Regions from separate parts of the Homo sapiens genome. Here region 1 is linked to region 2. The links come from fine-mapping of genetic effects on gene expression. A gene starts in region 2. The other region holds a variant in brackets. All regions are shown on one strand. Distances are from middle to middle.

The links. PIP is the estimated chance that this variant, and not a neighbour inherited with it, causes the effect.
Region 1: its variant is fine-mapped to the expression of MS4A7 in monocytes (CEDAR, PIP 0.95).

The regions. Positions count from the first base shown.
Region 1 is chr11:60,434,190-60,437,101 of GRCh38, reverse strand. The region is part of intron 4 of MS4A5 (membrane spanning 4-domains A5); the gene reads right to left. Among named protein-coding and RNA genes, the nearest start is that of MS4A5, 6.1 kb to the right of the region's middle. The variant G/A (reference allele first, on the strand shown) is at 1,366.
Region 2 is chr11:60,377,029-60,379,940 of GRCh38, reverse strand. MS4A7 (membrane spanning 4-domains A7) reads right to left here and starts at 1,409. Exons shown (of 7, transcript NM_021201.5): 1 at 1,277-1,409. RefSeq lists enhancers at 1,408-1,457, 2,138-2,377.

The DNA of each region.
Region 1 (2,912 bases), 57 kb before region 2:
CTCTTCTGGCTTGTAGGGTTTCTGCCGAGAGATCCACTGTTAGTCTGATGAGCTTCCCTTTGAGGGTTACCCAACCTTTCTCTCTGGCTGCCCTTAACATTTTTTCCTTCATTTCCACTTTGGTGAATCTCACAATTATGTGTCTTGGAGTTGCTTTTCTCGAGGAGTATCTTTGTGGCGTTCTCTGTATTTCCTGAATCTGAACGTTGGCCTGCCTTGCTAGATTGGGGAAGTTCTCCTGGATAATATCCTGCAGAGTGTTTTCCAACTTGGTTCCATTCTCCCCATCACTTTTAGGTACACCAATCAGATGTAGAGTTGGTCTTTTCACATAGTCCCATATTTCTTGGAGGCTTTGCTCATTTCTTTTTATTCTTTTTTCTCTAAACTTCCCTTCTCGCTTCATTTCATTCATTTCATCTTCCATCGCTGATACCCTTTCTTCCAGTTGATCGCATCGACTCCTGAGGCTTCTGCGTTCTTCACGTAGTTCTCGAGCCTTGGTTTTCAGCTCCATCAGCTCCTTTAAGCACTTCTCTGTATTGGTTATTCTAGTTATACATTCTTCTAAATTTTTTTCAAAGTTTTCAACCTCTTTGCCTTTGGTTTGAATGTCCTCCCATAGCTCAGAGTAATTTGATCGTCTGAAGCCTCCTCTCAACTCGTCAAAGTCATTCTCCATCCAGCTTTGTTCCGTTGCTGGTGAGGAACTGCATTCCTTTGGAGGAGGAGTGGCACTCTGCTTTTTAGAGTTTCCAGTTTTTCTGTTCTGTTTTTTCCCCATCTTTGTGGTTTTATCTACTTTTGGTCTTTGATGATGGTGATGTACAGATGGGTTTTTGGTGTGGATGTCCTTTCTGTTTGTTAGTTTTCCTTCTAACAGAGAGGACCCTCAGCTGCAGGTCTGTTGGAGTACTCTGCCGTGTGAGGTGTCAGTGTGCCCCTGCTGGGGGGTGCCTCCCAGTTAGGCTGCTCGGGGGTCAGGGGTCAGGGACCCACTTGAGGAGGCAGTCTGCCCGTTCTCAGATCTCCAGCTGGGAGAACCACTGCTCTCTTCAAAGCTGTCAGACAGGGACATTTAAGTCTGCAGAGGTTACTGCTGTCTTTTTGTTTGTCTGTGCCCTGCCCCCAGAGGTGGAGCCTACAGAGGCAGGCAGGCCTCCTTGAGCTGTCGTGGGATCCACCCAGTTGGAGCTTCCCAGCTGCTTTGTATACCTAAGCAAGCCTGGGCAATGGCGGGCGCCCCTCCCCCAGCCTTGCTGCCGCCTTGCAGTTTGATCTCAGACTGCTGTGCTAGCAATCAGCGAGACTCCGTGGGCATAGGACCCTCCGAGCCAGGTGCGGGATATAATCTCGTGGTGCGCC[G/A]TTTTTTAAGCCCGTCGGAAAAGCGCAGTATTCGGGTGGGAGTGACCCGATTTTCTAGGTGCCGTCCGTCACCCCTTTCTTTGACTCAGAAAGGGAACTCCCTGACCCCTTGCGCTTCCCAAGTGAGGCAATGCCTCGCCCTGCTTCGGCTCGCGCAGGGTGCACGCACCCACTGACCTGCGCCCACTGTCTGGCACTCCCTAGTGAGATGAACCGGGTACCTCAGATGGAAATGCAGAAATCACCCGTCTTCTGCGTCTCTCACGCTGGGAGCTGTAGACCGGAGCTGTTCCTATTTGGCCATCTTGGCTCCTCCCCCCTCATTTATTTCTTAAAACATGATAAATATTGTGGTTTTAAAATCTCTTCTAATATACTTAGTATCAGAAATTTACAGGTGATTTTTTTTTTGCTATGTTCTGTTTCTATTAGTTGTTATTCGCATTGTCTTATTTCTTTTTAGGCCTCTTTTGAGTGCTTACTGTTAATTTTCAATGGAAAATTTGATGGGAATTTATTAAGATTAATGAATGTTTTTCTCCTAGATAGACTTCGGTTTTGCTTCTGCCAGGTACCAGGGGCACCACATACCAAGACCAAATTCAGGTAAAACATTCTTGCCTTATCCAGTTTATGCCTAGCAAAGGTCAGTGGGGATTGGGGCGTGCAAGGAGGTTGTCAAGGGGTTTGTTTGGCTTGTGGCCACACTTCTCAAATACTTTTCCTTTTTAAACTTTGTTCAGCGACTTTGCTATTTTGGGGCAGGGTACGTTGTATATCTTTTTGCCCTTACCTGAAGAGCGTAGTAGCCTATCAAAGACCTAGTTTAATACGGAGAAAATCTCTCTTAAGTCTTTATACTTTGAGTGGATGTGAAACCTTGACTTCTTTCTCTTTCAGTCCACATGGGCCAGGGATTGGATTCCAAATAAGCATCACTGGCAAATGGGTCTGAAGGCATAAGTAGCTTTCATGCTCTTCAGAGTTCCACTTGTAAATTTCAGGTTGCAGGCTTTCATCTAAAAATTGATCTAGTAGTTCCAGCTGACCTTTCAGCTTTTTAATGTCTTTAAGGTTGTTTTGTTTTTTAATAAAAAGACTTCTGTTTTCAGAGAAGAGTTAATCCACATAGCCATACTTAACCATTACCAAAATCAGTCTCCCTATTTTCTGCTCTTTAGTCCTGCTTTCTGTGGACCTGGTGCATTCAAATATTAAGTATTTCTTAGGCTCTGCTGTAAGAAATATCTTCTAATATGACTTCCCCCTGCTTTGCCTTAGATGGTGGGTTTTCAATTTCCTCAGCAATTTTTGTGTGTGTTTGGTAACTCTCTTTTTCTCTCCATGTGGATCAAACCTTTTACATTCTTTTACACTAATCTTAGTGGTATTTTGAAGGCAGCTAAAATAAATGCCCCTTTTCAATCTTATCATGCTTTATCGGAAGTTCAGCCTGTTAAAACCAAATCAAGAACTGTAAAAACACACCACTGTGATTCTAATGTACATATAGGGCTATAAACTACAGCCATACTGCTGTACCTTTT
Region 2 (2,912 bases):
TCCAGTTTGGGAAGACAAGAAAGTTCTGGAGTTGGGTGGTGGTGATGGTTGCACAATGGTGTGAATGTGCTTAATGCCACTGAACTGTACACCTAAAAATGGTTAAGGCTGGGTGCAGCGGCTCATGCCTGTAATCCTAGCACTTTGGGAGGCCGAGGCGGGCAGATCACCTGAGGTCAGGAATTCAAGACCAGCGTGGCCAACATGGTGAAACCCCGTCTCTACTAAAAAAATACAAAAATTAGCCAGGCATGATGGTGAGTGCCTGTAATCCCAGCTACTCAGGAGGCTGAGATGGGAGAATCGCTTGAACCTGGAAGACAGTGGTTGCAGTAAGCCGAGATCACGCACTCTAGCCTGGGTGACTGAGCAAAACTCTTTCTCAATTAAAAAACAAACAAACAAACAAACAAAAAACAACAAAAAAACACATGGTTAAAAGGCTACAATTATTTTAAGCATATTTTACTACAACCAAAAAGCCAAATGGTATATTTAAATAAATGGAGGTCTCTAGATTCATTTAATCAATCACATGTTCATGACTATTTAGGTGGTTTCTATTTTTTCTTTTTGCCACTATGAACAATGCAATAATGAACATCTTTGCACTTTTGTGATACCTCCTGCATTTAATTATCTCACAGTGATGTATGGAAGTGGAATTATTACATTTAAATCTATGACACTTGAATTTAGATACACGTTGCTACTTTTAGAAGGAATCCTATATAACCAAGATTCTTTATGTTTCACAAAAGTCTCCAGACTGATGCTATCATCTCCAAACACCACAGTCTGAGAGGATGCTTTGTCCTTCCACATTCGCCTTGAGGAGATAGACTGGAGGGACCCACAGCTTTCAAGACAGCTCTAAAATCCGTGCTTTGAAGATAAATCATGACATGGAGGTCAACAGCTCTGCCCAGCAATTTTCTGTATTACAGAATTAGAGTAGGACCATGGGGTTCTAATGCAAGATTCAGTCTAATTGCACAGTATTTGTTGAGAGTAGACTCTGTAAGACTGAGTGACACACCAGGAGAATGCAGAACATTGAGGAAAATCACCTCAATGAGGGAAACCTAAGAATGGTTTTACCCAATTTTCTTATTTGACAAGTGAGTAAACTGAGACCCAAAAAGGGGACTGAGCTGACGCTCCAACTCACACAGGTGGTCAGAATCAGAGACAGGATGATAATCCAATTCCCTGGCTGTCTTTTCAAAAGCACACAATCTTCCCCAAAAGTCATGATCTAAACCAAGGTGTCTACCTGTTCTCGCAGCCTGGTCCTGTGTGCTGTGGCTGGGGATCAGCTCACCTCTGGGGAGCGCTCAGCTGGAACCTCCCACTGGCTGTTCCTGCCAGAACGATCTTGGTGCTCTGCTCTCCAGCCTCTGAGACTTCCTGTCCCTTTCTTAGAGCAGTATTTATGATTACACAGGATGTGAATTTTGCTGTAGTTACAGACAGTTGATATATAAAAAGTGCCTCTGCTTCCTCTTTCTAAATTCTGAGGTCTGGCAAAATGACACAAGATAGAAGTGACACATGAGAAAAAGACCTTTGTGCAGACTAGTGATTTGTACGGTCCCAGTTAAAATTCATTTTCCCTACTCCTACATAGAATTATTTAAGTCATCTAGTTTTGCTTAGCCTGAGTTTTCTTGTCTATTAAATAAATGGTGGATGGATAATAATAATTCCACTCTGTGGGTGTTGGGAGAATTAAAGAAAAAAGATGCAAAGAGTTTACAAAAAGTAGACAATAAATATTGATAATAGTAATGTTAGTTTTGAATTTTGGAGAATCTATTCTCTCACTTTCCAGGCTCTTGGTAAGCTGAAAGCAACCTGTGGAAAATTCCGTGTCTCCTTGTTACTTCTTTTGGGTGTTTCCATTCTCCATCTTTGGCCTCATGCTCAGGGAAGTCCAGGCACATCTTGGGAAAGATGCCAGTGGATTGGCCTCAGAGGCAGAGTCATCAGGCTCCACACAAGCTCATATTTGGGGAAGTATTTGTTGTTGAGGGGACACTGTTGCCACTTTCACATCCCTTTTAAGGCTTCTTGTAGACTAGCCATTGTTCAGAAGGGTAGGGTTTAAGATGGCTCTGGGACATGCAGCAGCTGGCGGCACAACATGCTCCATATACAGTCTCCATTTCCTGAAGGGTGGCAAGGCTATCCCCTAAGAGAGGAGCAAACCTAAGCCTGGGAGATTTAAATAACTCATAAACTACTTGGAGGGTATTTTAGTCCAGTTCTTCTCCAAATGAGGTGATATTGCTGAAGGAATCTGCCCCCAGTCACATGTCTAGTCTGTGGAAGAGGCAGGAATCTAATTCACATCTCTTGGCACTGAGGTCTGGGCTTGCTTCATGGCAAGAGTCTGCCATTTGGTCAACATCTTTTTTTTTTTTTGAGATGGAGTTTTTTGCTCTTGTTGCTCAGGCTGGAGTGCAATGGTGCAGTCTCAGCTCACTGTAACCTCCACCTCCCAGGTTCAAGTGATTCTCCTGCCTCAGCCTCCCCAGTAGCTGGGACTATGGGTGCCCACCACCATGCCTGTCTAATTTTTGTATTTTTACTAGAGACAGGATTTCACCATGTTGGTCAGGCTGGTCTCGAACTCCTGATCTCAGGTGATCCACCTGCCTTGGCCTCCCAAAGCTGGGATTACAGGTGTGAGCCACTGTGCCCAGCTTAGTCAACATCTTCATATCCACAACAAGCACTGTCTTTGCTTAAGAAAACTTCCAGGATCCAGACCTTCCTCTGGGTCTATGACCTGTTTTGACCAAATTGTTAAAGAACCTTGGTCATTTGGGCTTCTTTCACACTTCTGAGCCTCAGAAGGAATTCGTGAGAAAATCAGTTAAATATCCAGTTCACTTTCTCATAAAATT